2 linked regions of the Homo sapiens genome follow. The protein of the gene in region 2 purifies or fractionates together with the protein of the main gene of each other region. This does not show direct contact. Each region holds a gene or a part of one and is shown on either strand. Other genes may lie near its edges. The genes, in order: PON2 and ITGA6.

Region 1 (17,522 bases), on a different chromosome or scaffold from region 2:
GTACATAATGTTACCTTTTCTTCACAACTGCACAGTATTTTTTGTGCAAAGTTCATATAAACAGTGTATGTGCAAACAATATAGAAAGATATAAAATGGAAAGTAAATAAAAATAAAAATCTCTCATCAAACTCTTCATCACCCCCAACAGAAATAACCCCAAAGATAAAGCTCCCTTTTTTATCTTTCCTGATAGTTTCAGTGCATTTGCAAACAAATATATTGACTCTTTTTTTCACAAATAGAATTTTAGTGTAAATATTTCACAACCTTCTTCATTCCTAAAACAGTGTGAGCAGCTTTCCACATCAGCATATATAGTTACTTTGTTCTTTTTAATATTTTCACATTCCATGATTTATTTAACCATTCCCCTTTTAATGTACATTTGGGTTGTTACAGTTTTTTGCAACTATGAACAAATCAGTGAACATCATTGCTGTTGAGTTTGTGTGTCTGTAGAATATGTCCTTAACAATGGGATTGTTGTTCCCTTAGAATATGTGTTTAGAGTTTTGACAGTCATTGCTAAGTTGCTCTCAATTTGGCAACAGTAATAAACTCAGTACCTCATAGTTGTAACCACATTCACTCCAGACAGAGTTCTCAGCACTCTTTTAGTAAAAATAAACCATCAGTTGACAGTGCCACCTTCAGAGTTTCTCTACAAATACCTTGCTTGCCTCCCTTTCTTTTTTTCTTCTTTTAAATCAGCTTCCTCAGGTTGATCTGCCTCTCATTCCTTAGGCATCTGTTTCCTATGTGTTCTTTCTCCTTTTTTTCATTGATACTTTTGTATTTCCCCAGTTCTACCTCCCCTCCCCTAGACTGGTTGGCTGTCCTGGAATTTCCCTTCCTTCTTTCAATTGCCCAAACACTAAGTGGGAGGAGGCAAACTCATATCAAATAGCAGATTGACTACATCTGTGCTGGATCATGCAGACAGTTCAAGAGTCCCAAGTAACTTAGCAGCTTCATCTTGCCTTCCAGCTGCAATCAAGAAGAGCCCTCTCAGAACTGGTCACTCAGCAAAAGCCAGATGGCATTAGTAAAAGATGTTGGGCAAGGGTGGGAGTTTGGGCCAGTGATCTCTTAGGTTACTTTTGCTGCTGAGTTAATAATTGTCACATTATTAAACAGCCCTTGGCCCTGGGAAGCCCACCTTCTGTGAATACAAGTCTCAGAGTAGACAATAGGGCACAACCAGCCATGTTACATGACAGACTGCCAAGTGCATTCCTCTTACAACTCACTGGGATGGAGCGCTCCTCAGAGAAAAACAAGCCCAGCAACATTTGTATTCTGAACAGGCATCTGTCTATGTTTGTGACCTTTATGTTGTGATGTGTGTGAGCTGCTGTCTGGAATTGGAAAGAATGAGGAAATATGTCACCTATGGCCCCTCTTGTGAAGTGTTAAATGCCTCTGAGGCACTTCAAAAGGCAACAGAGCGGAGAGGATGAGTGATTAGAAGCACATTTGGGATACATTTTTAGATCTAATTAGAATTGTCCTTTTTTTTTTCTTTTTTGCTTTTGCCCTGTGGTTAGCACACACCATATGAACGTTTGTCGAATGCTATGTTAGTGATGCATAATGGTTAATAATAACTTTTGGTTATATATCTTTAACAACAGTTGCTTATTCACAGGTCTTTGATAAGAAGAAATAACAATGTGCTGGACACACATTTCTATACAGGCAAAAGTGACTTTTTATGATAGAGAGGGCTGTTTCTTATTTTCTGTTTTGAAAACAGTAGTAGCTATGCACTTGAGGCCAACTAATCCCTCTAAGAGGTGAACCTTCCTTCCCCCTTGCCCTTGATTCCCATCAACACACACATACATATGCACACACTACCGTGCTTCAGTCACCATCACTGGAAGTGAACTATGTGCAACTTTTGGGTGCTTTATATATATCATATCATATTGTGTCTGCTTTAATAAATCATAGTTATTGACTACATATCATACAGGATGTGTGCCTTCTGTGGGTCAGAAAATAAGTTCACTATTTAGTCCTTTTCAAAAATTCCTTCCCGATCTATCTTATAGACAGAAACTAAGCTTTTATACACCCAAGATTTGGCAGATTAACATCTGCATATTAAAATGTCAAGAGCTAGTTAACTTTATTTGAGGCTTAAAAGTTAAAAAATCTGATTTTCTAAATGTCTGGCCTTCAAAATTTGAGTGGACTGTCTTTCTCAAGATAACTAACAATTTTATGCACTTGGCAGTCAAGACCTTTACAATAACTGCTGCTTGGGAGATTGAGGGGAAAAAAGCATTAAAGTTTGTGGCCCTTATAATCAAGTACTTTACAGTCTACTGATGGGAGAAAAGGAAAACAAAACAAAACAAAAAACCACTGTGAGATATAGATATGTCTTTTCTTTCTCTAGCAGATAAGTACCTGAGGCTCAAGGAGGTTAAGCAACTTTTGCAAATTCACTTTCCAATATAGTGTCTTTTCCCAGGGTGACTAATGTATATACTTGATGAGTGAACCAGAAAAGTAGGAAATAATATGTTACATATGGGATGCTCTATTGGGTATAGTAAAGGATGCGTTGCTGTTATAAAATTATAGTCACTTAGAAAAGAGATGTTTATTTTTATTTTTCTCTCATCAGTCTTAAGGTAAGTGAATGGCCTAGGGTAGTTAGGTGACTGTGTTCCATATGGTCATTCAGGGGCAAATGCTGATGAAGCAACACAGCTGTCTTCATCTAAGACTAGAACTCTGCTTGTTGCCATTTCCCAGCAGGAAGGGGTTGAAAGAAAATTTATGTAGATTTTTTTTTCTACCCAGTAGTTGCATATATATTGTATTCTCACATCCTATTGACCCAAACTTAGACATATGGCCACATCTGTCAGCCAGAAAGGGTGGGCAATGTTATCTATAGCTGTGTTGCTACGTGCCTATTGCTAAAAAGGCTAAAAAGGAAGAAGGGGAACATGGATGCTGGTGAACACTTGGCCACCTCTGACACAGATAATTGCTAAAGTAATAAGAAGAGATGGAAATTAAATGTGCTAAGCTAGGAGACTTTCTAAAGAAAGGGTTTGTCATGCTACGCTGTGCCATTCATGTGTTTTTTTGCTCATGCTGTTCCTTGTGCCTGGAAATTCTCCCCCTAATTCCCCTGAGCAGTGGATGCAGTGGATACCCTCCCCAGATCCCCCCCAACTTCCCTGAGTGTTGGCTACCAAAAGCTCTGAGTGCACCCAGGGAGCTAAGTCCTCCTGCCCACAGGCAATAATGGACTGACACGGGGTAGACTTAAAGAAATAAGAGGCACATCAATCAATTGAAATGTGTGGGACCTTACCTGGACTCTGAATTAAACAAACTGTAATTTTTTAAAGCTACACCTTTTAAACATGATTGGCTATTTGAACACTAACTAGATATTTGATGATATTGAGGAATTATTGTGAATTTTTAGTGTAGTAATGATATTGTGGTTTGTATAAATATATTTAGGGATAATATGATGCCTCAGATTTGCTTTAAAATAACACAGGATGAGGATAAGTGGTAGGACTGCAAGGGAAACAAGACTGGCCATGAGCTGATAACTGTTGAAGGTGGGTACTGGGTATATAAGGGCTCACCACACCATTCTCTTGATTTGTGTCTATTTCCCATAATAAAAAGTTTAAAGAGAGAGAACCGATGAAGGGGAGGGAGAGAGTCAAGCACACAATAAGAGTGACAAACAGTGCCAAATCAGCCCACAGTATTAAGTTTTCACATATTTACATAAATATCACCTGGAATGCAATATTGAAATTAATGTATATCACTAGAATAAAAAAAGTAAAGATTTAATAAATTTGTTTTGAAATAAAATAAGTTGAAATACGAAAAAGACAGAAAAGGTTTTGAAAGAGGTTTTAAAGAAAAGTGCAGGATATTCATTGGTAAAGATGTTGGTGAGAGGCTTGGAAGCAAAACTTCAGGGGAAAAAGACAACATATGGAATTGACCACAATTGAATTTACAAGTGAAGTGGCTTTACAGAGGAATCAGGGGATGTTTCTGAGAGAGGAAATTCATTAAATTCTAACTTGAATATTTTCTGTTTGCCTTTAAGTCAGAGCAAAGGCTTTGAGTCCCAGCTTCCCAGTTTGTGACCTTGAGCAATTGCTTAACTTTTCCAAAGCCTCCAATAGTCTTCACTCTAAAATAAAAGATAATCATATGAGATATTGTATGCAGGGTATTTACAAGGAGCCTGGTACTTGGTGTACCTAATGTATGTTAGTTATTATTATTAAATTAGAGGAGCAAAAATTTCTCTAGCATTGACTGCTCCTGACATAATCACACCGAAGAGGGGATACACGATGATAAAACCTTCCTGCAGTAGTGGCTATAGAAATGATGACGGGGAGAAGATCTGGAAAATATTCCAAAGAAGGCTACAGATAGATACATTTTTTCCATTGGAATTAGGCAATGGAGTTAAACAGAAGTTACAATATGGTTGAAATAAATGTATTTTTTTAAAAAAAGATTTCTCTTTCCTTAATTATTAAAAAATATACAATTTTGTAGAAAATTTTAAACAAAGTATAAAGAAAAAAATAAAAATCATTCATAATCCTATCAAAGAAGCATTGTTAATTTTTTCTATATATCTTCTTTTTCCACGTGTATACTTGGAAATTAAATTTTCTAAAATAATTTTCAGGAAAAACAAATTTTAATTAATTGAGCTTCTACTAAATAGGACTGAAAAGCAAAACCTGGACTAGAATTCTCTCTCGGTGTGTGTGTGTGTGTGTGTGTGTGTGTGTGTGTGTCTGTGTGTACATGTGTATGTGCTGTGTATACATGTGTATGTGGTGTAGCGTTCCCCTGATTCTTAACTTATTACCAGTGGACAACCACCGTGGAACTAGAGTCTAGTCATTCTTAACCTTTTTGGGGGAATCACAGTCTCTTTTTTGAATCTGATGAAAATCAAGGACCGTTTTTACAGAAACGTTCTCATCTGTGCATACATGAGACATTTTGCATTGCATAGAATTTCCGAGGGTTCACAGATACTTTGAAGCCCAAAAGTGATCCACAGACCCCAGATTGAGAACTCCTCCGCTATGCCATGCTTAAGCTTATTTCTGTGTATCTTCTTTCTGAGGAGCAGGCAGATGGGTCATCTTTACAATGTGAAGTTCTTGGCATTTTTATTTTGTTTTGTTTTTCTGCACTACGATGGAGCAAGCAACACTGGAGGCAACTGGCTAAATGCAAACTCATGAAGCAAGACCAAAATGGCTGGATAGATAGATGCTGTTTGGTTTTGACAACCTAGAAATAACCTTGAAGAAATCCTATGGAGAAGTCTTAAAGAGGAAGATTGGATTTTGTAGACTCAAAGAATGTGTCATGGTTTGGCTTAATCTAAGCCATTTTTATTCTTCTTTTCTTGTGTTTGGGTCTATTATCTGTCTGTAGAATTTATACAGTGAGACTGCTGGGGAAAGTCTTATGTCTAATTATTTGCTGTGCTGTGTGGAGTGTACTGCAGACAGTCAATAAACAATCAATAGTAATTGTAGCCTGCCTCAGAGACAGGAGTTAGAAACTTCAACTGGCTTAGGTGCATGGTATTTTTCATTAATTTTCTTCTGCTAGTTTTTTTCTCTAATTTAAAGCCTAAATTTAAAGATTAAATAGAAAAGCTTTCTTTGCTTATGAGCACAAGTAGGCACTGTTTTTAAAAGAAGGAATATATAATCCCAGGTGTTTTACCTCTGTTAATGAGAAAGATGTCTGTTTGCTTCAGATTGAATGAGCAAAGAAGAGGACAAGGATATTTGCATGGTTAAATGCCTATGAGCCCTTCCTTCAGAAAGTAATATTCCCCTGATGTCAATTACTTTTATACGGACATCTGGATGTTTATCATGAGAGTGTACAGATGTCAACTTTTTCAGTATTATAGCTGGAAATGTGGTGATAACTTGACTTTGATTTGAGTAAACATAAAATATCTAACATTTAAAGTCAGAAGTTCACTTCAGGAAGGGGTTTAAACTGACATTTATTAAAAAGAATGGTTCCTTGGAAAAAACATCAGAACCATCCCTAAAGATACAGTCACTCTGATAAAGTAAACAGAGTCCCAGTTATGCTCTGTGTAACAAATAACAGAACTTGAACATGACATTTATCTGTTCCTTAAACTTACAGAAGCTGGCTCTGAAGATATTGACATACTTCCCAATGGTCTGGCTTTTTTTAGTGTGGTGAGTGTCTTCTTCCTTCCCCAAATTCAGCAGAGGAGATACAAGGGTATTTGATGAGGGCTGCAGAACAGTAAGTTGCTTTTAAAATTCATTTTCCAAAATGCATTCTGAAGAAAAGAGAGGTCAAACAAGATCTTGGAAAACTTCCTCCAGCTTTTCTAAATGTAGAGATGAAGACTCTTTGCCCATTGAGATAGTGTTCTTTATTTCCCCATTGCATTGCACTAAAATATTCCAATGCAATCTGTGTTTTGTTTTGTTTTTTCTTTTTTAATTTTTTTTATTTTTTGAGACGGAGTCTTGTTCTGGTTGCCCCGGCTGGAGTGCAGTGGCATGATCTCAGCTTACTGCAACCTCCGCCTCCCGGGTTCAAGCAATTCTTTTGCCTCAGCCTCCCGAGTAGCTGGGATTACAGGCGCCCGCCACCATGCCCGGCTAATTTTTGTATTTTTAGTAGAGATGGGGTTTCGCCGTGTTGGCCAGGCTGGTCTCAAACACCTGACCTCAGGTGATCGCCTGCCTCAGCCTCCCAAAGTGCTGGCATTACGGGAGTGAGCCACCACGCCCAGCGCAATCTGTGTTTTAAATGTGCACTATTAAGAGGGATATTTGAGGTCTTACTGTGGATACTCAATACTAACATTATACTATTTTAAATACAGCATCTACTCATCTTTCTATTACTATTCAACTTGAAGCAAATATTCTTGCCATTATTATTTATTTTCAAATATTATACCAACCTTGCCCTTTTGCTTTCTTTCTTTTTTCCCCTGAATAGCCAATCATAAGTGGAAAGTCATTGAGTTTATTTACACCCTTCATTTTGCCTTGATTCTTGTAAGCTGAAAAACAATATCCTTTCTGGGTATACAATAGAAAGACTTTAAAAACAATTGGCTTGTGAATATTGTTGTGAATATTGTTGAAACTAGCTTGTAACAATGTCCATTCTAATTGGAAATCCAGATAAGGGGACAGATGAGGAGGTTCTGACCACCTACCTCCCTGGCTTGGGCAGACATAGGAGTTCTTGGCATCTTCATAGGTCCAGTTTTTCTGGAGGAAGAAGTAACCAACTCTGACACCTGACTGTAATTATTCCATTTCCTCTCAACATCCATTATTTTCAGGCTCTGAGACTCAAGAGGGATGTGAAATACTGGGAGATACTTAGAAGGGAGTCACCACACTAATAAAATAGTTGTTAGACTTATGAGAAAGGTGAGAGAACTCAGGTTGGAGTAGAATGAGAATTAGAACACTCTTCAGGTTCCTGATGGTTTTTATGTGAAAGACAGTGAGCAGCTGGTTATTACCACTGAGGCAATAAAGAGATACTGTGGGCTTTAGCAGAAACACCAGTATATGTATTTAGTTTTTAAAATAAGGTTTTAAAAGGAATGTTTTATTTAATTGCCTACACAGAATGAATAAAGTGATATTTATAGTAGGACTCTGGGTTTGTTTAGGAGCACATGCTTGCACATGTGTGGCTTAGGAAAAACCACTGGGACCACTAGTCTAAAATATTCATAAGTAAAGATGCAAACATTCTGAATAAAGTAGAAGGCAGTTGCATTGATTTTTTTATTTGTTTATTTGTGTTTTTTGTTGTTGTTTTGCAAGGATGTGTTCTTGGAGATTTTTATAATCTAGAATTCACCTATTTCAAGATTTCTCTCCAGCCCCCATAGTAATAAATCTGAAGTAGGAGGGATGAGGTCTCCAAACACATAAATCTACAGCCATTTTAGCTTGGGGGCATGTTATAGTTACAAAGATCTTATAGCCATATCAATAGAACTTTTTCTGCTTTTTTTCTGTTACCCTCCTTTGCTCATTTGACTTTTTTTAAAATTTAGAAACATTCCCAGTTTGCTGCTGTTTTTCATTTACTTGGCATTGTCTCTAATAAAACCTAGAGTGTACTCTCTTCTAAATAAAGAGGTCCTACATTGTGGAGGTTGTTCATTCTTCTTCCTAGCATTTTAGCTCATCTAACCCAACCTATTTTACAGTTATGGGTTGAGGGTCACCTCAAAACTAATGTCACACTTCATGAAGAATTGGATGACATAGAATAAAATATAAAAAATGTAAACAATGTGAGTGTGCTTAACACCACTGAACTGTACACTTAAAAATGGTGAAAGTGATGAATGTTGTATGTATTTTATCATAATTAAAAATAAATTTTTAAAAAGAGAAAAAATACTTAAATAAATAAGGAGTGCGAACATAACCATGACTAGTTATCACCATCTGATAGTGCTTCCTTTGCATGTAAATCATGCTTTTGTTTTGGGGACATTCATAAAGAATAGGGATTAACTGAAGTGGCACTGCCATGTAACAATAGCATAATTCCAGTTTGTTCTACTTACCAGGCTTGCCCTCCATGAAAATATACAATTGTAGATAATCTTTTTTAATTGGAGAGATTTCCTCTTATGTCCAATTTTATACATAAAGTAAGACTTTTTTATTGTGTGCCTAAATTTGTGTAAATATGACTGCATCGTATTAGTAAACTGAATTAGGTAGTGCATTCACATAAAATTTAACATCACCAAGAAGGCTTTACCTTAAGAATGTAATGATGAATCACCATTTTAGATAGACTGATAGGTAATTTATTAACTGATTTAAAAGAGAAAAGACCTATATCATCTCAGTGAGTACCAAAAAGCATTTAATAAAATTCAATACTCATTCCTAAAGTTCCAAGCAAACTAGAAAGATAAGGAAAATTCCCACAAAACTACAGCAAACATCATTCTTGATGGTGAAGCATTGGCTGCATTTGCATTAATGCTCAGAACAGGAAGAAAATACCCAACACCACAACCATCAGTAATCTACTAGAGTTCTTAGTAATTCAGTAAAACGAGAAAAAGAAATGTGAGATAGAAAAGAAAAAGACAAAACTGTCATTAGAGAAGCAGGGACTGGCTCAATTGCCCAGGCTGATGTGCAGTAGTGCAATCATAGCTCACTGCAGCCTGAACTCCTAAACTCCTGCGCTCAAGAGGTCCTTCCACCTCAGCCTTCCGAGCAGCTAGGACTACAAGTGCTCACCATAACACTCAGCTAATTTTTTTTTTTTTTTTTTTTTTTTTTTTTGTAGAGACAGAGTCTTGCTATGTTGCCCAGGCTGGTCTCAAACTGCTGGCCTCAAGCAGTCCTCCCACGTCAGCCTCCCAAAGTGCTGGAATTATAGGCATGAGCCACCAGGCCTGACCTAAAGCTGTAGTAATTTAAAAAGTGTTATATTGGCACAGGAATAGACATGAGACATTAAAATAACAAAACAGAGAGTCCCTAAATAGACCAATATGTAAATGTCAGAGATCTAGCACATGATAAAGGTGATATTTTGAATCAGTGGGAGAAGGATGGACTGTATGCCAGGCACTGTTCCAGGCACTGGGATCTAGCAGTGAACAAATTTCCACAGTCAGTATGTAGATGTCACTTTTCTCCACCCTCAGCTCTCCCTGGAATCACCTAGTCCACCAACCTTCTGATTACTCTCTGAAGAGAATAAATCCCTGATCTTCTTTTCAGTTATTTTCAGGCTTTCAGTATTCCACCTCCCCGTTATTATTTTTTCTGTTATCTTTTCTCTGTTTTTTGAGTTTTTGTGGCTTTATGCCACTACTTTAACCACAATCTCTATTTATCCTTCATGTACAGTTCCCATGTTAGTCCATAAAAATACTTAAGCTTTTGTATTTAACATTTTTCACCGTTTTGGAAAGGGTCTAAAATTCCCAGGACTCCACAGCTTTGCACCAGATAAGCCTGGAGGAATACTAATGATGGATCTAAAAGAAGAAAAACCAAGGGCACGGGAATTAAGAATCAGTCGTGGGTTTGATTTGGCCTCATTCAATCCACATGGCATCAGCACTTTCATAGACAACGGTAAGAGCCAATGGGCTACCAACATTTAGTAACGTGTGATGGTTCACAAATGACTGTGAAAAATAGATTTGGATCATATTTCTAGGAAGAGAAGAACAATTAACTCATGAGTGATTTCTGTATTCTTCATTACAAAGAACTTGTTCATTTGCCTCTTCAGCTGGCAGTAAGTTATGCTACATTTTGAAATTCCTAACAGGTAACACCTGAAAGAATGTTTAGATTTCATAATCTTTTCATATACCTACGATCATCACATTTAAAAAAGAACTGTATTTTTGAATTAAAGTAGAAACAGATTATGCATGAATTCTGTATATGGAGTAGGAAACACTTTCTTAAAGGTCAGGGAGCCAATGATCAGAAATAACACCAGACGGACAGCAATAGGAAAGACAGAGAATGATCTGTTAGGTCGTCTAACAGCTTATACATTCAACCTTTCCTTGCCTGTGGTATTTAAATGTCAGTGCCTGCCCAGAGGTCCCGTAGTTATGTCTTGTAAATTAACTCTGTTCTTTCAATTCTTTAGATGACACAGTTTATCTCTTTGTTGTAAACCACCCAGAATTCAAGAATACAGTGGAAATTTTTAAATTTGAAGAAGCAGAAAATTCTCTGTTGCATCTGAAAACAGTCAAACATGAGCTTCTTCCAAGGTACTTCCTCATTTTGTTCCTTCTCTAATTTATCCCCAGCATTTGCAAACAATCCCTATGGTGGGTTGTCCTGTCATCTTTTATAAGCGCTAATGTATATATTAGCTAATATGTAAGAGCTAAAGAGCTTATATTTCCTTATTTATAAATGTGTGTGTATAGTTTCCTTATAAACCAGGGCAAGCATGGCATATGAAAGTTGATGTCACTCATACTATTCACTGTTCTATGCGGACTCCTTTGAGAAATGATGAAGTGCCCGACTACAGGGTGATACTCTTCAGGCCCATCTTGAGGGTAGAAGGCAAACCCTAACATTTTTTCCTGCTGTCACCCTCCATCTTAGATGACTCATCACCCAGATGAGTGTCTTGCCAAGGAAGAATGGCCTGTTTTTTATTGGGTTTGTATGCTTTGCATGGGACTTTATACCAATCGCTTTCATAGGGTTAGTGATGGTTGCATGCTAGTAATCCCACAGAATTAGAGCCACTCAAGTTGAGAGTGAGTCATTACACTTCAAGAACATAAAGCTGGTTGAAAATGTGGCTAAGAGAGAATCATGTGTACCCCCACCCCCAGTTCAGTGTGTATTAGCCTACTGCTTCTTTTAGTTTAAACTTGATGAATATTTTTAATTTCTAATGAAATTTCATTTCTAATGAAATTAAAAATATTGCCTATCTAGGGCCTATCTATGCCTATCTAGGGCATAAGCATGTAACTTCCAATCATTCCTTCCAAAAATGCACTTGATAAAAAAAAATAGGAGCATAAATACCATCCAAGCATTATGGTGCTCTTTCAGAAAAATGAGACCTACCTTCCCTGTAGCTCTATATTTTTCATTTAGCAAAGAATAAAGCAGCTCTTTCAGAAATTTTTGCATAGAGTAATTGGAATTTAAATTTAATAACACCCTCACCTAACTGGTCTTAAAATGAAATTGTTTTTAGCATATAAATCTCTCACCTGAAGCATTGTACTATGGCAATTTTATCATCCATCTCTCTGCAAGTGTTTATTGAGTGCCTGTTCATTCTCGGCATGTCAGCTTTGTGAAGCAGGTAGAAATTGAACAGTCAACCTTAGTTTGACTAATAACTAAGCCAGGGAAATTAGAAAAATCCAGGAACTGAGTAAATGGAAGCTAGGTAAATGTTACTGACTGCCTAACCAGCTCACCAGCCAATCAGGCTCTCTCCAGCTCTGTACTGTGGACAGCTCTGTCCTTACGTATAATTGTTAAACCCTACATTTCTTGCTGTCAAAAAACATGCCCTGATGGCACTAAGTTCTTTCTTCTCTTATGGTAATCCTGCCATAATTGCTAAATGACCTGTGTTCAGATTACCTGGTACCATACAAAATTGTTCTCTGGCAACAATATTATAGTATATTGTATATGACTATAGTCGTGATTTTTAGCTCGTCTTTTCCTCTTACCAAAAATTTAAAGCACATGTTGCATAAATCTTATGAGTACTTAATATTTAATATGGAGACCAACAGGCCTTTTGTTTCCTCTCACATGCTATTTTTCTTTTTCAGTGTGAATGACATCACAGCTGTTGGACCGGCACATTTCTATGCCACAAATGACCACTACTTCTCTGATCCTTTCTTAAAGTATTTAGAAACATACTTGAACTTACACTGGGCAAATGTTGTTTACTACAGTCCAAATGAAGTTAAAGTGGTAGCAGAAGGATTTGATTCAGCAAATGGGATCAATATTTCACCTGATGATAAGTATGGCCCCTTATAGAATATCTTCATTTTTCTTCAGTTGTGGTGCTGGCCAAATTCTTTACTTTGCTTTCTTTGTCAATGTGAAAATAGTTTTCTTGACATTTATGGTATATTATACATATAATATATAGATACACTATATATATAATTATATATGTTTTGTATATATATTTACATATACTTAGTCACATGTATTTATATGCAAATACAATACCATATTTAAGTAAACTATATAATACAGTAATATATATGTATTTATATATAATATATAAAGTTTGGAATACATCATTGTCAAATTTAATTTTATAAATATAAATTTTAAAGTGTGATCATACTGATGCATACATATTGAAGTATCAGGTATTTCCTTTTAAATAAATGTATTATTTTTATTGGCTATACATTATTCCATTATAAGGATGATCTTAAACTAATTTAACCAATTCTCTATTGATGGATATGTGTATAGGGGTGGGGAGTTCTACATAAAAAATATTTTATACTTCTTATTTACCATGGAATTTTAAACAAGTATTTTTTTTAAAGAAAAAGTCCCTAGGAGAGTGTTTTTTTTTTGTTTTGTTTTTTGGAGATGGAGTCTCACTCCGTCGCCCAGGCTGGAGTGCAATGGCATGATCTCAGCTCACCTCAACCTCCGCCTCCTGGGTTCAAGTGATTCTCCTGCCTCAGCCTCCCAAGTAGCTGGGATTATAGGCATGCGCCACCATGCTTGGCTAATTTTGTATTTTTAGTAGAGATGAGGTTTCTCCATGTTGGTCAGGCTAGTCTTGAACCTCCAACCTCAGGTGATCCGCCCACCTCAGCCTCCCGAAGTGCTGGGATTACAGGCATATGCCACCACACCTGGCTCTAAGAGAGTATTATAACATAATGGTTAAACTTGCAGATTTTGGACTCATACAGGCCTGGGTTCAAATCCCACCCAGGGCACTGGCTAAATGGTTCTATGAGCTACTTTTCTGTAGAACAGACCCCTAGAAATAGAACTATTTGCTCAAACAGTGTGATTCTTTTAAATGTTAACTTTAATAGATATTGCCAAATTGTCCTCCAGAATTATCTCATTATTTTTATATGCACAACCACAACCTATAAGAGAAGATATTAAATTCTTGATAGCTTTCTTATCTACTGCCTCAGCACACTGAAAAATTTAAACTACTACAAATACAACATAAAATAAATTTGGCACTCCTTGACAACTAAATGCCCTTATTTTTGTAATCCAATTTCTCCTCCTTTCTTGTTGACTATAGAAAAAGAATGTAGAATCATTTAATTTAAATTGTCTCTAACTGACCTGATCCAACCTCTGCAGCCAAATCTGTTTTTCACTCTTATATTTCCATTATGAGAGTCAAACTTTCCAATCACCCAAGCTAACAAAAAAATAACAATAATGAAAAGGGAGAATCAGCTTTTACTCCTCTTTCACCATTCCTATCCAGCCTGTAGGCAGGTCCTGTTGGTTCTACCTGTGCCTCCTTCCTCTACCCCCAAACTCCTTTCCCTTTGAGTGAGACCTGCCTAATTTAGGTTGTCATCCTCTCTGACTAGCATATGAGACTTTCTTCCAATTTGTTTTCTGTCTACTTGGATTTTTTTCACTCTTGCCAATTTTGTCTGTCTATCTCTATTAGCCTTGAAGGGCTCCCCAAAGAGGGAACTCTGTCTTCCTCACCTTTGACTCCTTATGCCAGTACAGTGCCAGGCACAAAGCAAATGCTCAGGAATTGTGGAACAGAACTGACCATTTGTTGCCACTTTATTATTCTAAGATTTCAGTGGAATCCAATTGCTTATCAAATCAAGGCAGGGTAAAGGGTTGGACTTTGTTTAACAGGCCACCTCCAACCTCCCTTTTCTACTATTTCCATGCTTTCTATGCTTTAGACAAAGAACTCATTGTTTTAAACATTCCTTCCTCTTCTTGCTCCTGTGATTCTGCTCTTGTGCTTGCTTCTGCCTGGGAAGTGCCTCCTCCGTCCTCATCTCAAATCTCATCTCTCTTTACACAGCCACTGCAGATGCCCCTTCCTTGGTGAGCCTTTCTGTGTCCTCGGAAGTTAGCTATTTCTAGACCTGAACTATTTCTCATGCTTATTAGGTGTTTAATGTGTACAAACCAGTGAGATTTGTTCCAACACACTATAAACTTTCAAGGAGAGAGGCTGTGTCTTCTTCATGTTTATATCTGCTGCAACACTGAGTTCATGGCTTTTCACACATAATTGCTCAACAGAGCAGGTGCCATGGAAAGTCAATTCAATGAGTAAAATTACCTCAAAATAGTCTGTTAATTCACTCACCTTTGAAGTAGACAGATTATTCTGCATTGATACTTATCTCTTACTCTTAAAATTCGCTATGTATTAATAAATATTTTATTGAATATTAAGGAATGATCACTATTTTAATAAGATGTTCTTTACCATATATTTCTATATGTACATGATAATTAGAAGTATCAAATTATATTGTGGAATGTAAAAGCTTTTCTTCTGAAGCCAAGCATTTGTTTTATTGTCATTTCAGTGGCAAATATGGACTTCATATTCAAAATGATGTTCTATATTATTTTTCCTTACAAGCTTTTTGAAAAACAATTTAATAATTCCATGATTGTTGTAGCACCACTGAATTGATTCTGAAAGCTTACTTTTTAAATAAAAATTGACCTTTATCAAGCATTCCTTGAGGGCCCATGATTGATTAACTTCTTGGCAGGTTATTAAGACTTATTCTTTCACACTGTATTAATGAAGCTTTATATTGGCATGGAGCTCTAACCACTGTGTCCTTTCTGCAAAGGTATATCTATGTTGCTGACATATTGGCTCATGAAATTCATGTTTTGGAAAAACACACTAATATGAATTTAACTCAGTTGAAGGTAAAATATTTATTTTTACATATAGACAGTAATCTATTATGCTTTGCAATGACATAGTTTTTCTATAAGAGTACCACACGTAGAACAAAATATGGATGCCAGTGTAGCTATTCTGGGTTTTTAAATACTCCCTACAACTAGAGAAAGCTCCTGTTTCCAGCGATCTCAAGAACTGACCATGATTACATGCAGCAGCAGGTTGAGAGTGATATTCATCAGATTTAGGGCCCATTCCATGAAGTATTGATGGCAGTGGAAGAATTCCAATAAGAATTTTCACAATTGAAAATACTAATAGATGAATTCTCAAATGAAGGTTTATGCACAGTGTCAGTTCTTTCAATAATACATGAAGGTAGAAATTGGGTTCCACACCATTATTATTTTCTTCCTACTCAACAACACATATTTTAGGTTGATTAAGAATTTCCTATCTTGCTTTGATTGAGTTCCTTGAGCTAACTGATCATTGTGCATCTTTTAAAGGAAAAGGAGTTCAGTTTTTAAGATAGATTTTTACAGAGACCGATTATCACCCTAACTTTCTTAATTTCAGGGAAGAAGAAAAGTGGCTCCAAACCAGTTTTTAATACATTCCTTTTAAGCAATATTGGTGTTAGAAGGTGGAAGCAGGGCGATGTGTAATTTCCTCACATGCATAGAGGCAGGAAGGTTACCTCTAAATTATTTAATCAAGTTTCTCATGTCATTTAGATTTTGACAATTTCTCATTTGGAAGGTACTTGAGCTGGATACACTGGTGGATAATTTATCTATTGATCCTTCCTCGGGGGACATCTGGGTAGGCTGTCATCCTAATGGCCAGAAGCTCTTCGTGTATGACCCGAACAATCCTCCCTCGTCAGAGGTTTTTATATTTTCAGTTTTTTAAACTTAATTATTCAAGTCCTTTTGAACTAATAATACAATAAATTGTCACAGGGATGATTTGTTTAGTTATTTTAAAGCAATAATATAATAAGCTTATGTCGTGGTTTTGTAATTGCGTTAAGCCAATAATTGGCAGAATGTTACATTGTTCAAATACTTTAAGAAAGGTAATCTTTTGATGTATTAAATTATGGTGGAAACTAGTCAAAAGGCATTTTTATAAAGACATGTGCCCTTCTTGGGTGGTATACTGGCAATTTTTAAAATATCTGATTTATTGTCAGCTCACCACATGATGTGATATTTGTTCATGTTGAAGTAGTGTGAAAGTAGGCACATTAGTATGAAAGTATTTCTATTAAAGCTGAATTGCTATAATAACACTAAATCCTGTGTTGGCATGGAATAACTAGATGGTTTTAAGAAAGTACTTTCTTTGAAGATTGGAGAAAGTACTTTAATTTAAACATTAAAAAGATTGGTAACTGCTATTTTCAACAGCATGTCCCCTTAATCAGTGTGTCATTGTGGAAAACAGGGCTTATTGATGATTGAGTGACATGCATGTACGGTGGTCTTATATTCATACTTTGTATCCCCTGAATAGGTTCTCCGCATCCAGAACATTCTATCTGAGAAGCCTACAGTGACTACAGTTTATGCCAACAATGGGTCTGTTCTCCAAGGAAGTTCTGTAGCCTCAGTGTATGATGGGAAGCTGCTCATAGGCACTTTATACCACAGAGCCTTGTATTGTGAACTCTAAATTGTACTTTTGGCATGAAAGTGCGATAACTTAACAATTAATTTTCTATGAATTGCTAATTCTGAGGGAATTTAACCAGCAACATTGACCCAGAAATGTATGGCATGTGTAGTTAATTTTATTCCAGTAAGGAACGGCCCTTTTAGTTCTTAGAGCACTTTTAACAAAAAAGGAAAATGAACAGGTTCTTTAAAATGCCAAGCAAGGGACAGAAAAGAAAGCTGCTTTCGAATAAAGTGAATACATTTTGCACAAAGTAAGCCTCACCTTTGCCTTCCAACTGCCAGAACATGGATTCCACTGAAATAGAGTGAATTATATTTCCTTAAAATGTGAGT
Region 2 (15,141 bases):
CACACTGCTTTCTACATTTCAGTATTCTCAATGGTAAGTAAAACACAATGTATTTTTCTTTCTATGTACAGCTAAAGGAGAAACAGTGTTAGAATATAAGCTCTACCATTTATAGTCTCGATAGGTTATAATGGCCAAAAATGAAGAAGGAAAATACGCTCTGGCCCCAAATTGTATTTCATGTTTTTATGTTTATTGCTAATTTGGGAAACAAGTCTTCTCTAACTTTGCGTACATTAAAAACATATTAACACAAAAGAATGGCCTTTAAAGCAAATCACTAGTTCTATTCCCTTCAAAGACATTTGATTTAGCATCATAAATGGCAAAAAAACTTTGGCAAAATGAAAGTCAGAGAGACTTACATCAATATGAGCTGTCTTGGGTTCATCTGAATTCAGAATTGGAAGAACTTCTGGAAGTGAATTCACTCGCCTACGAGAGCTTGGCTCTTGGATCTCCACTGAGGCAGTTATGGGAATGGGACGCAGTTTATCTCTGATATTATCCTGCATGAAAAGCATGCAGTCAGAGTTAAGTGGGGTGTACATGCTATTGGGGAATTCCAAAACAATGATTTTGTATTGATTAAGAGGTTGCCAGAATAAATTTCAGAAATCTGTATATCACCATATAACCTTTTTCTGTCCTCTTCATAAAACAGATGTGACCATCTGCAGCCCTCACCTGTAGCCACAGGGTTTCCTCCATGCACACTTTCTGTTTCTGCCTCTTCAGAGTTAGTTCTTGAGTATATTTGGGCTCAGAACCTTGGTTTCGAAACTGAACTCTTGAGGATAGCCCAGATTTTCTTCTTTCTTTTTCAGCTTCAAGTGTGCCCACAATTGCTAGATAAAATTAAAATCATATTAACGTAAGTGCATTCATGCACAATCCAGCCACAAGCATGTTGAACTCCTTTTAAGATTTTAATTCCTTGTAGAAAACATTGCCATTGTTTCTCTTCATATTTCCTGGTAATATGCATTTGCACAATTGTGATGGTTCAAATCAAGCTGTCTTTTCCTTCCTTTTGCTGTTAACAATGTTTCAAAGTTAAATTTTCATTGTGCCACCTGGGGGAGCTCAAGAATAAGTTAAAACCTTTCAGCAGCAGCAGTTATTAAGAATCAGTTTCTGGCTGAAGTTCATGAACCCACAGAATACTAACGATAAGCAGAGGAACCCAACACTCCCCCGAGCACCTAAACTGATTTTCTCCCTTTAAACCAGTCAATGCTTATTCAAGTGGCCTCGTGCCTTTGCTATCTGGGAAAGATCTCTAGAACAGCAGCATCTCCTGAGGGCCTGTGAGGATGCAGAACCTCAGGCCCAGTCACACCTACGGAAGCAGAATCTGCTTTATTAATAACAGCATCACCAGATGATTCTTATACGTATTAAAGTTTTAAGAAGCACTGATAAAGGATAGTTGTCTAAACAGAGGAATAATATATTTTAGAGATGGAGAAGTCTTTCGACAGTAGGATGAGACCTTTACCTTAACAAATAAAAAAGAGGATGGGCACAGTGAATTCTGCCTGGCATCCCAGCACTCTGGGAGGCCAAGGTGGGTGGATCACCCGAAATCAGGAGTTTGAGACCAGCCTGACCAACATGGTGAAATCCTGTCTCTACTAAAAATACAAAAATTAGCTGGGCTTGGTGGCGCATGCCTGTAATCCCAGCTACTCGGGAGGCTGAGGCAGGAGAATCGCTTGAACCCAGGAGGCAGAGGTTACAGTGAGCTGAATTCATGCCATTGCACTCCAGCCTGGGCAACAAGAGCAAAACTTTCTCAAAAAAATAATAATAAAGATAAAAAAGAATTACAAGGTAAATTATATATTTTTGAGTGGATGGAGGGCCTGTCGGTCAGCATAATATAGCTCCCACAACCAAACTGCCTACCTTGCACTGGGCTAGAAGGCACAGCCTGTTCTTGATAACCTACACTAATGGAACCTGGAGGGAAGCTAGGATGTGGATGATCAGAATCTCATTTTTTTACTTCAGAACGCATTCTTTGTTGGTTCATTAGATGTGGCTGCTAACTTTGTTTTTCATGGGCCAATACTTAAATTACTTACATTCATTAAGCAGTCACTAACCATCAAAAGGGAAAGCAAACCAAAGTGTGCAGAGGGCTGGAGAAGGCAATCTCCAGGACAAAAATCTGCTACAGAAAACACAGAAAATGAATAACTCACATTCTAATATTCACTTTAGAGTTGGAAGAGACCTTTTCTGGGGAGGCTTGGGGTCATACTGAGAGGGACAGAAGCAGCACCAGCTTCTGAGTCTCTATCACAAACACAAAAGGCGATTGCTTTCTACAGGGTCTTAGATGCCCAGGTCTCACTTGCCTCCTAACCACCGCAGGAGTCACTCCTTCCCTCAGCCAGCTGTCTTTCCCTTCTTTTCCCTTCCACCTCCCAGCAGTGTTGGCCTGCTTGGCTAAGCCCTCCCTTCCCCTTCAGATTTCAGCTTGGACCTCACCTCCTCCAGGAAGCCTGTCCTGGCCTCTCTTCGCGATCCTAGAGTATTCCATCTCTCCAGTCTCTACATTTAAGCCCACTACGCTGTGATTTCCTGATTGTCTCCCACAGTGGGGCAAAGCCGAGGACAAGGATCACATCAGTCTTATTCCCCACCACAGTCCCCAGCAACTAGCACAACACCTGATAGACATATGATTTATGGAACAGATGAACAGAAGTGGCAGTAACTGGTTCCCCACTTGCACACACATGCGCACACACACGATGTGACATTCTTATGCTGAATGTGAGCTATTCAGAACAAAATTTAGAAACACTGACAGTTTCAATAGTAATTTTTGTGTCCATCTGGAGAATTCTTAAATGTCACAGCTGCCAAATGGAATGCTCCCCCATTTTAGGCCTCTGCAGCCTTGACATCATCCATTTATAAGTGACCTGCTAGCTTCACAATGAACCAGATAAAGGCTCACACGCTGAGTGCCCCTCACAGCAAAAGTGCCCCTCACAGCAAAAGTATGGGAGGTGTGGGTGCAGGAAAACCGTTTATCTGCCAAATTCACTCTAACCTTCCCTAACCCTCCAGACAGTCCACATCATCTTAAAATCTTTGCAGGCCACCTTTGCTAACTGCTTGAGGGGCAAGCCAAGTAGAACACTCATTACGGCTCAATTATAGATATCTATATGTATGGAACACCACATCTGAGGACTGCTGAGCTAAAATAGCCCAGTCAAACAATAAGCTCACATTCTTGGCTACTGGGAGAAGATTTTAGATGTATTAACTTATGTAGCTTTGTAGAAGTTCTGTCTTAGTTCATTTAGAATTTACTGTGGAAGTAAAAGCAATGAAAGCAAATGTTCTTTGAATGTCTTCAAAGGAAAGTTCCACCCATAAAAGGCCATCCATAAACACTTGGTTAATGGAGTAGCTACATAACATAAAAGTAATACACATGGCATCAAATGCTGTGCTACAGCTAGGAGAAAGTCTGTATTTTATATAGGTGATTAATTTGGGGGAAGTCAAGGAGTGCTCTGATGATATTTCACATCTACAGTCAAACTGAGAGTGGTTTGAAAAAATGGCCATCAGAACAGAATAAAAATGTTTCCCCTTTTTCTCTGGCTGCCTAGTCAAAGAATCACTGTTTTCTCCTTGTCTCTCTAATTCATTCCAAACACTGGCAAAGGGCCCATTATCCAAGTGGGCTAGTGTAAGGTATGGCATTTGGGTAAAAATAACACAAATGATACTGAAAGGATGATAGATCCTGAAGAGTCACAGTATACATTTTCTTGTCATTAAAAGCCACACAAAGAATTGCTTTCTACACTCGACAAAATGCCGGCTGCATCAAAAAGCAAAGCAAAAGGCCACAGCTCCCCCTGTGCACGAAGTCATAATCCATCCACTCTAAGAATGCTTCGTGCAAGGTCTGCAGGTCCCATGGAGAGACCACACAGCAGGAGACGACCCCACAGAAGGGGAGACGGAGAAACCACCTGCAGACAGCTCGAAATCTGGAAAGATGAAGGCTAACTGAGCTTATGACACTGAGAATCAGGTGAAGGGGGACTTAAAAAAAATTAAAGACAGTACATTTATTTAAACTGTCCCTTTTCATAATTCACTGAACTTTATCACAGGTCAGTATCTTCATTCTGTTGTCTTAGTGGATACATTCATTAGTGTTATATAAAACTTCATATAAAGTTAAAGAAGAATTAGAGTACAGCTAAGAACAGAGCTGTGACGTGTGAGAGGATTCACCATTGCAAACCCTAGTCCTTATGTGGCTATTTTTTCCTGTTTCAAGCAACAACTTTAGGTTATTTGAATTAGGTTATATTCTGGAATATTATAAGGGACATCTTTTTAAATAAAGAAAACTACTACTTTAGATAACAGGGAGAACACTTCAGAGGACTCATTACCTCATAGTATCGTAAAGGCTGACAACCATATGAAAGGACAGAATGACCTTGTTCTTCACAAAGTGTCCCTTGGTGGCAGATACAGTACACTAGAATCCCAAACTGCCAGGACCATGGCCGGACCCGGGTTGAGAATTTCCTCATTCTTTTCACTTCCTCTTTGCAGAAAAGATTTTCTTGGAATTCCTATGCCCCTGGCCTTGACTCTGGAGCCAGGGGTCAGGTGACTCACAGCTGAAGAAGTGTGGCTGCTATTAAAACATGCCAGAGGAGAGCTTACGACGGCCACTATTGTTAAGAGTATCATTAACGGTGTCAAAATTCTTGTCAAAAATCCTGTGTTGCCCCATAAATATATACACCTACTATGTATCCACAAAAATTTAAAAAAATCTTACTTTGAATTACAAAAAAAGGAAGCAGAACAGTATCTAATAAATGACAAAGTGCTTTTCATGTCTTCTCAGTTGATCTCCAGCACAACTGTATGCACTAATGACTACTAGGCATTGTTCTGAACGGACAGGAAAGCAAACTCATATGTTAAGGGACTTGCCCTGTGGGTCAGTCAGTATCAAAGCTGAAACCAGGAGCAGAGACCAGGTCTCTGACCTCTCAGGGCCGGCTTGCAAATTCCCTAGGGGCCTGCTCTTGGGAACACAGGGCGGGTGTTCCGGGAGGGAGGGGCGTGGGGAAGAGAAGGCAGCCTGGCAGTGACTCTGTGCTGTGCTCTGGCTCCTGCCGTTGCCCTTTCACAACCACCAGCCACCACCCACCACCTCACAACCACCAGCCACCACCCACCACCTCACAACCACAAAATCAATTTTCCACACTGCTTTTCAAAGACAGAAATGGAGGAAATGGTTGTGGTAGCAAATAAGTACTTTTCCAAGCCATTCTGTCCTAAACCATCTGCTCTGGAAAACTCAAATGGCGACCAAGTGGAGTTTTTTTCCTCCCTCACGGTGCTGTGCCCTCCTGATTAAAAGGGAGACAAAACATACACTTAATTCTTTACACCAGAATTGACAGACCCATGTTGGCCACTGCAGTTTTATTTTTCTGTGATTTATGCAGAACTTTCAACCTGGCAGACAGAAAGTAGACATATTTTAAAGGTACTAGGTACTTACATATTGAAGGATTATAACCAGCGGGGTTAGCAGTATATTCAAAACAGGATTTAACCTGGAGGCTGAATAAAATCAAACACATATTTCTTAAAAGATCCATTATTGCAGTGGAAAAAACCCAACATGTTCCCTAGCTCTCCAATCCCCCCAATGCCCATTGATGATCAACATGTTATAAAAACACTTGACAGACCCTCTTCCCTTTGCCCAGCACTCCTGTCATCTTCCCTGTGGCTCCTCAGGACAATAGAGTCATCATGAAGTGGAGGTGGGAAACTGAGGGGGATCCCACCAAGACAGAGGGATGCTCACCATATCCCACTAGGCGCCCCACACGCTGTTTTCTGGCGGAGGTCAATTCTGTTAGGAGTTACTGTGATGGTTTTCTGAATATTAATCACAGGCCGGGATCTGAAGACAAAAGGAGTGAAAAACAAGCTCAGCCTCTGTTACCTTGAATGTGAGTCTAATTCACATACTAGAGAGCATCCTTAGCTGCCCAGCACAGCTTAAAAACACAGGAAAAAAAATACACGTGACGTTTTCCCCCATTGCTGAAGAAAATAACTGTTAATAGATATAAATGTATACAATGCAGAGCCTCATTATACAATATTTGTTTAAAAACGTACACACTTATGAGTACATGTGCAACATGTGGGGGTTAAAGTAAATATTTTGTCTCCATTCCCACCCGAACACCCAAGTAGCCTTGTATGTTCTTCCAGACACGTCAGTTAAAATTATCTAAAATTAAATATTAAAATATATGTATAATTTCAACTAAATGGGAACTTAATTGCCATTGTTCTGTATGTGGCTTTTTCTCATCCATTTCAGAGGTCTTGTCCTGTATATACACATAGATCTAGTTCACTGTTTTTCACACCTGATGGCGTTACACTGTATCAGTGTAACATCCTTTATTTAACCAGTACCTAATCGGTAGACATTCACGTTGTTGAGCTTTCTGCTTTCACAAACATCATCTGTGCACACACTTGAGTTTATCTGTGGGATAAATTCCCAGCAGCAGAATTTTGGAGTCAAAGAATATGTGCATTTTTAATTACGAGTAGTCTTGCCAACATACCCTCTGGAAGAATTACACCAACAAACACCTAATACCTGAGATGCTCATGATCAGCGTGTCTACAGTATGTGAATTAATACAGGCAATCCTGAACTTGGGAGTCTCCATTGTACAAACACTTGCCCTTCTCTTCAGCCTCCCTCGGAGTCTCCCACCCACAACCTTCAGTCTTTGCCTTCCTATTGCCAGGATTGACAACTTTTCTACCCCCACGATATCTCTGCAAGCAAAAACTTAAACTTTTAAACTTCTTCCCATCTCTGCGCTGCCTACTGCAACCCCGCAAACACTTGAGAAGCTGGAATCCAATTCCACGCCCTACTCTGGTTCACCATCTGAAAACATCTTTTCGTATGTTTTGGCTGCCCTGCTCCCAGCAGCCACAGGGGTCTCCACGGGTCTGTGGCCCAACTGCTGCCACAGGCACAAGAAATGCAGGTATGCGGTGGGTTGAGGGGTATGAGTGGGTGAGGAGGCCCACCTCCATTGCTCCCCACCAGAACTCAGAATGGGGCCTGGGGTTTCATTACCACGTGGATTCAGTTAGGCTGACTCTGATGGGCTTGTGGTAAACCCAGCCATTCTGGAGAACAGTGTTTCTACAAGAAAATGCATTCCAAATCCCAAACAGCTAGCTCGAACTTCTGGAATCAATCTGTTGGTAGGCTAGAGCACAAGTCCATTCACAGTGAAGGTAGGGTCCAATAAAGGGTCAAATACTGCCCACATTCCCTGTTTTTCCATTTTCCTTTATTGTTTACCATTCTATTTTTATTTTACATTTAGACAGCTGCTAGGTTCTAAGATACTAACTAGATACATTCTTAAGTTTTGAGAGCATATTTAAAAGGCACAGTTGCCACAGATATAGTATTTTACATACTGTAGAATTTTAACAGACATTTCTGCCTAGAACATATTTTGTTTTTTAAACATACAACACACAATTTTGAGGGCAAAATATACATGAATTATGAAAACTGTGTCTTTTAACATAGAAAATAAGTCTTATTAGTTTGGCTGCCTCATGTTTAAAATTGGTGTTTATTTACTAACTACCCTGAAGTGCTAGTACAATTTAGTAGAAAAAATGCACAGGATTCAAGTCAGGAAGATTTAGGTGCTACATTCTGTCCTCTCAGGCTCCAGCCTTAAAAGCTCAAGCCAAGTCCTGGGCCTCAGTTTCCTCATTTGTAAAATAAGGGGAAGTTACTCCTCTTCTTATCAAAGGGTTGTTGAATTCTACTTTCACACTATCTGCAAGTAAAGAGGGAACAAGTGTACAGGGTTGACAGTCAACCTACTTATGAGGACAGGAAAGTAAGGATATTAAAATATCAGTTACACATAGACAGGGGCAAACATTTAACTGACTAAAGTTAAGTCATCTATTGTATTGACAAGGAGAGATAGCCCAAGATTAAATAAAAACCAGATTAGACAGCAGAAGTTACAGTGTAGCCTTTTGATGATACCCTAAAAGTAGAGAAATGCACACAAGTTTTGTGGAAGATGGGAATAATGTACTGGATTTTCTATAATTCTATATTATTAACTTTAAAAAAAATAAATCTGCTACTTTTTGAAAATTAAAAAACAAACCAAAAAAAGCCTCCAATTTTTAATGGTGATTTCCAGCAGTGATGAAAGCGCTGGTTAAAGGGAGACTCAAACACCACGGATGGGAAATGTCGCACCATTTTGGGAGGTCATCTTGGCGAAACCGAATCAAAAGTCTTGAAGCACATATATCAATTTCACATCCAGGAATTTATAATAAGGAAATAATCAAGGATATAAACAAAAGTAAGAATGTTTTCCACAGCTTTTTATATCATGGGAGCAAAAAAAAAAATTGCGAAGCAACGTAACCATCCAGTGAGAGCAAGGCAGTTGGTTAAATAAGCTCTGAACCTGTCAGAAGATGCCTCACAGACAGTTGTTAACTTCATTTTGGAAAAGTACTCAGTGACATAGGAAAAGTCTACTATGTATCCTAAAGAGACAAAAGCAGGTTACAAAATTATGCACAATTATGGTCTTAATTTTGTTAAATATACATGGTCCAATCACAGAAAATAAAATAGAAATCAAGATCTTGGAGTTTAATAATGCATGGTGAATTATAGGGGGTTTCCTTCTGTATGTTCTTTGTACTGTCACATTTTATATGTGTTTTGTTTTTTTCATCATCAAAATTAAGGTTTTAAAAATATATGAAGTAAAAATTCTAACTTGGATCTATGTTTTCCTCAGATACTTTAAAAGATTTTAGAAAATAGGTTGTTATTACATTGTTTACTAACTTCAAAAGAAAAAGAAATAGCTTCACAATTCATATAAACCTTTGAAGTATAGGTATGACAAATTTCAGTCCAAAAGGTCAACATTTTAGTATAACCTGATTATAGAACATGCTTAACACTAAAATCATAGATAACAGACCTGAAAATAGTTACTGAATCTGAGAGGGAACCAACAGCAACATCAGGGTAGGAATTTCGATCAAGGTCCATGTTTCCAGCAATTGAATATCCAAAATAAGGTGATATACCCTTGAGAACCTGAAATACACAGGGCATCCGAATGGACATTAGGTTATCACCATGAGCTTCTTAACAATGCTTTGAAAAAGACACACAAGTTTCTTTTGAACTGAAATTTGAGAGTTCACTTATAAGTAAATTATATTATATACAAGTCATAAATTTCTATATGATCTAACACTTCATACATTTCATTTCATAAAAGTCATCCGATTTACATAGTATCTCAAAGCAGAAAAGAGCCCATTTCTGATGAGCTTGTTTATTGTATTAAGTCAATCAGGCCATTTCAAACCAAATCTCCCTACCTTCCCTACAAGTCTTATTTTTCTCAAAAGACATTTTTAATTTTTGGTGTCTACATTCTCCATGTAGTTACAGTCATTTATTTTGTTTGACCAATTTCATCTCTATTTAGTATGCTACTAAAGAGAATATATCGTATTTCCTCTTATCTTAATGCCGTCAGGGTAGAATAACATTCATTTGCTTTGGATTACCTTGATTCCTAACTTATCTAAGAAATTTTACAATTAGAACAAGCAAGTCATTACATTTATATATTTATTTTGAAGGTATCTTCTAGTAATACATTTTTAAAAAATTTATACTATTGTGGACTTGTAAATAAAATAAGATTTGTGTGAAAAGTCACTTAAACCTAAATATTTTATTATAGGGCAAAAAGTTGAGACTCTAGCTGTAGAAATCCCGGTTATTTGGTTACCTGTGTTGGTTTGGTATTTATTCCATTTGCAGATCCATGATAGATAAAAACCTTTCCCAAGTCATCATACGGAGCTCCAACTGCAATATCTGTTGACAACATCACATTTTAACATTTTAACAAACGCTTTAGAAACACTCTAGTAAAATGTTTTAAAGTAAGATGACACAAGCACTATTATTTATTTGTTTGGCTTTTTCGGGGTTTTTTTTTGTTTTTTTTGAGATGGAGTTTCGCTCCTGTTGCCCAGGCTGGAGTGCAATGGCGCAATCTTGGCTCACCGCAACCACTGCCTCCCGGGTTCAAGCAATTCTCCTGCCTCAGCTTTCCAAAGCTGGGAGTAGCTGGTATTACAGGCATGTGCCACCACACCCAGTTAATTTGTATTTTTAGTTTCTCCATGTTGGTCAGGCTGGTCTCGAACTCCCGACCTCAGGTGATCCGCCCACCTCAGCCTCCCAAAGTGCTGGGATTACAGGCGTGAGCCACTGTGCCCAGCAGCGCTATTATTTAAACAATCAAATAATCTATAAATCATAGCCATTTCATAATCTATTATCTACCTGGGTAGCCATCTTGATTAATATCTCCAATATTTTTTACTGCAATGCCAAACATAGAATCTTTGGTTCCATTAAGACGAATTGGCTTCACATTATTCCATCTGCCTTGCTGGTTCATGTAGACATACACTGCACCTCCAACTTCTCCATCTCTATCAAAATACTGTGGGGCTCCAATAACTATATCTTGCCACCTAAAAACATAATGAGGGGAAAGAGCCGTGAACCAACAGCTAACATACCAGCAACACCAGTCTAGGTACTAAGGATACAAAGACATATAATAGAAAGGCCCTCAACTCCAGAATTTATGACTCAATTATAACATTTTTTAAAAACCAAGGTAGCCTATAATAAACGCCCCAAGAAAAATACTAAGGGTAAGAACTCAAAGCCAATTTCTCGAGTTAGAACCATAGTACAGCAGGACTCCCATTAAGACCTCACTGTTCTAACCCCCCCAACTGGCACCAACAGCCACATATCTGTTTTTTACTTTATCACCAATTCCTGTTTTCAACGGGAGCTGATGCTCCATCAGCCCCATATGAAACCACAGAACAGAATCATGCAAGTGTTTTCTGAGTCAATTTTTTTCAAATTTTAATTCTCATAGACTCATGATCCCAACATATAAGTAAAAACTGAAAATCAAAAATATAATCCTATACGCTGGGGAGGGATATGAATGTCTGTCTGCTGCCATCATAGAAATGATAAAGATAGGCTGGTAAAAATGCGGCAATAAAAATATTCTTTACGTCAATGAACCTGAAAGGACGGCTCTTCTCCAGTCGTATAGAAGCTAGTCAAAGCAGAAATGATTTGCAGCATAATATAACCTGAGGCTTTCTCACCCATCCTTGTTGAGGTCCACCACCGCCACATCATAGCCAAATGAAGAGGCCAGACCTTCTCCATCGAATATGTGCTCAGGGAGGAGATGTGCAGACTTCATGTCTCTCTTCAGCAAAACCACGGCTCCACTGTGATTGGCTCTGGGAGCACCAGATACAAAAGTGATCTCATCTTTAGAAACAATACCTTTCCCTGAGTCCAAAGAAAAACCTAGAAAAACAAAATATATAGAGCCCCTCACATCAATCCATATATTTTAGGCCTATGACATTGGTAACTCCATCATTACCTCTTCCTCTGGCTTCCCACCCCTCTCTCCTCTTGACCCTCCCACCAGCTATCACATTCGTAATATGAGTGACAGAGTTCAGATGTGACACAAGGACAAAGTCCTGGGGCTAGCTAATTTACTGCTTTCTATGGATATTAAGACTTTTAACTAAAAGCACCTATGTATAACTTGAATTTTGAAGTATTCATACATCTTAAGAATCAATTTCCACCCTATTTTAATATTGGAACTATGGTAAAAGGAGATCAAGCTAGATACTGAATTGTCCAGGAATAATTTGGTTATGTTACATCATATACACAGAGAATATATAACCTGACTGGAAGCATAATTGAGTGCATGTTACAGGGTTCTGCTGTAATTTAATGACCAGTATTTTTACAGGAATAAAATAAAATTGAAGAAAAAGTAATTAAGCTTGGTAAGAGGCATCAACTCTTTGGTAATCAGACAAAAACAAATGCTAACATCATTAATACACCATAGATAGCATTTCATTGTTTTGGACCAACTTAGTTCTCAGACACAAACATGCAGACAAAACAATGACTGATGATACATGGTATTTGAGAACCTAGTATAAACAACAGAGGTGAGGAAGTTGTCATTGGTATCAGTTATATACTTGTTCAGAGGGCAGAAAACATTAGGACACACCCATTATAAAGCATCAGGTAGGATGTCAGATTACAAATAACAGATCTGGTGAAAAGCAAATAGAAGTGCCCATATCAAAACCATTCAAATTAAGTAAATGTTTCTATAGAAAGGTGAGGCAGATGCAGAATAATATAAGCTCACCCCCTTTATTGGGTTTTACTTATGAAAAGCTTCACCACTACCGTTGCAGTTCTCAAATTGTGAAGTGAATTGAAAAACATGAGCCACCAGATTAGAGGGCAATATGGAGTCCAGCTCTTACAACCATCTGGCCACAGAGCCCCAGCCATGGCATGCTTTTTGTGTGTGCTTCAATGGAAACAAAATAGGGCATAAAAAGATTTATGCTCTGTATGGATCAAAAAAAAAAATTTAATGACCACAACCAAGACAATTTATTTGTCGTCGCAGAGGTCACAAACCTAGGTAGCTATTCATCATCACATCAGGGAATGTGTCAGGCTGCTCCCGGGGAGGCCGTGTTTTATAAACAAACTGATCAGGATCTGTATAGGAAACGCTGGTCAAAAACAGCAGGCCTGTACGCATGCACGGGACGGAAGAAATTGAAGAAAAAGTAATTATGCTTGGTAAGAGGCAGGACAGCCACTGCTGTTCTCGCTGGATGAGGAGGCCACCACTGCATCCGGCAAGCTGCTCTCATTGCCAGCTTCCAAAACCTCAAGCAGATCGTTTTGTTCCCCCAAACCCTCTGATCTTTTGAAGTGACAGATTCCACACAGTACAGACAAACCGAATGTAACAATATGAATTTGATTTCTTTCTCAGGCATTCACTTTTGAGGAAATCCATTCTAAAAGTGGCAAATGTGTTTGAGAAAAAATGCTTCATATTTTCAAATGTTCTGACAGCAAGTAAATTTATAAAATCCACAGCCATCCATCTTAAAGACCAAAGTATTGGTTTCTTGGCCAGTGCAATTACAATCAAGTATTTTAATCATAAGTAATCCCTAAATGAAACATTCTGAGGTAAGGTCCTGCTCTGTTGCCCAGACTGGAGGGCAGTGCTGCAATCACAGCTTACTGCAACCTCAACCTCCCAGGCTCAAATGATTCTCCTACCTCAGGCTCCTGAGTAGCTGGGACTACAGATGTGTACCACCACGCCTGGCTAATATTTTTGTATTTTTAGTAGAGAAGGGGTTTTGCTGCATTGGCCAGGCTGGTCTTGAACTCCTGGCCTCAAGTAATCCGCCTGCCTCAGCCTCCCGAAGTGTTGGGATTATAGGCGTGAGCCACCAGGCCCGGCCTGAACAACTTATTAGTGCGTGTTTACTAGCACATTGCTTGAAATTATTCATGTATCTATACCTGTTTTTTCGTTTTTTACTTTCCATTCTTCCAGTAATATCCTAACATCTGGGTACTTTTCTTCACTTTCTTTTTTTTTTTTTAAACAGGTTACTATTTGGGTTTAGACTTTTTTTTACATTTTTTCCAAGAAATGCACAGTAATTATTCTTTTTGTCAACTCATACCAAGAATTAAAGCTTTTAAAAGCCTTTGTGTAATTACCATAATGTACATGAATAACTTAGGACACCCATTAGTCATGCAAACAAGCCTTAGGAGTTAAGAATTGGCCCTTAGACACAGTCTGGGTGTCCTGAAAGCCGTTTTAGCAGTCCTGCTCAACCTCCGCTGGGAAGCTTTTATCCATCTGTGGGGCCCTGTGACATGGGGTCCCAATCCAGAAGCAGGGCTAATCCTTGGAGAACCACAATCACAGAGGGAGGACCTGGAGGTCTTGACTTGCCACTTAAGAGTAACTTTATTAAATGCAGTTCTTAAGAGTATCTCTGGAAGGAGGCACTGAACAAAGATCTCAGCTTACTGTGAACACCCATGCATGTTTTCATGGCTGCATGAGCGGCCTGTTTCAGGTTACGGAGGCTGCCATTAGCTCAAGAGACAGACTTCTGAGCAGGAGGGAGGACGGATGATTTTAGGTGATAAGAGGTTTCTTCCCCCTTTGAGGGAGCCCCAGTCAGAAGGAAAGGATCCCAGGCATCAGTCGGTTTAACGCCTCTAGATCACCAAGCTTATCAAATTCCAGCAAAAGTGGCCCGGCCCCACCTGGCCTCTTCTCAGCCTAGAAGTCCAGGGGCCATAGGCCCTGCGAGGGAGTTTCACACAAGGTATCTGAGAAGGTGGGCAAAGGCAGCCATCTGTGCCTGCTCCTACCTAAGTAACTGTTAGCAGGAACAGGAACGAGACTTTCATCATGCTCAGTCTCTCCACCAACTTCATAAGGCCCATCTTCAAAGATGTTCATGTCAAAAAAAGTGTTATTCTTTTGCTCTACACGAACAATCCCTAAAGGAATGAAATGGTAAAAACAACAAAAAAATGAAGATGAAACAAAAGAAAATAAATGGTTCCTAATAAACATCCCCCATGCTATCACTAGTTACAGGAAAAAAAATTTGGAGGAAAAAAAGGAAGGACAGAGATGACTTTTATGGTTGTAAAATACATTTGTGTAAATTTTTATGGGAAAGAAATTTGTTTGAGTCATTAAAAACTGTCCCATGCATTTTCATGAACTATCTTTATAATGCCATGAAACTAGATGAAAAATGGAAGGTTTGCTTAGTTAACAAAATCTACAGAGAACCAATTTTTAAATGACATGAACTTGATATATATATTTTACATTCTCTGTAATCCTGCCTCAATTTGTCTTTTTTTTGCAGTGTAAAAGTGAGACATATTGATCTTTTCTTTAGATCACTTTAACCAAGATTTCATCTTTTAAAAATTCTTACAATTAGTAATTTAAAACATAAGTTTTCATATAG

What was found.
Region 1: the proteins of ITGA6 (region 2) and PON2 purify together in Homo sapiens (affinity purification with mass spectrometry; 3 studies listed by BioGRID and IntAct, with this or other methods). This does not show direct contact.

Annotation. Positions count from the first base shown.
Region 1 is NC_000007.14:95,404,992-95,422,513, reverse strand, and holds part of PON2 (serum paraoxonase/arylesterase 2), read left to right. Parts: exon of another isoform or gene 1-4,198; intron 4,199-6,216; coding exon 6,217-6,272; exon of another isoform or gene 6,273-6,325; coding exon of another isoform or gene 6,326-6,342; intron 6,343-10,036; coding exon 10,037-10,202; intron 10,203-10,734; coding exon 10,735-10,861; intron 10,862-12,412; coding exon 12,413-12,613; intron 12,614-15,445; coding exon 15,446-15,527; intron 15,528-16,266; coding exon 16,267-16,395; intron 16,396-17,025; coding exon 17,026-17,184; 3' UTR 17,185-17,522. UniProt on the Homo sapiens protein: Capable of hydrolyzing lactones and a number of aromatic carboxylic acid esters. Has antioxidant activity. Is not associated with high density lipoprotein.
Region 2 is NC_000002.12:172,470,489-172,485,629, reverse strand, and holds part of ITGA6 (integrin alpha-6 isoform b preproprotein), read right to left. Parts: intron 14,657-15,141; coding exon 14,525-14,656; intron 12,857-14,524; coding exon of another isoform or gene 12,740-12,856; intron 11,576-12,739; coding exon 11,365-11,575; intron 10,702-11,364; coding exon 10,508-10,701; intron 10,034-10,507; coding exon 9,945-10,033; intron 9,236-9,944; coding exon 9,117-9,235; intron 5,990-9,116; coding exon 5,891-5,989; intron 5,641-5,890; coding exon 5,579-5,640; intron 4,899-5,578; exon of another isoform or gene 3,817-4,898; intron 849-3,816; coding exon 688-848; intron 510-687; coding exon 366-509; intron 1-365. UniProt on the Homo sapiens protein: Integrin alpha-6/beta-1 (ITGA6:ITGB1) is a receptor for laminin on platelets. Integrin alpha-6/beta-1 (ITGA6:ITGB1) is present in oocytes and is involved in sperm-egg fusion.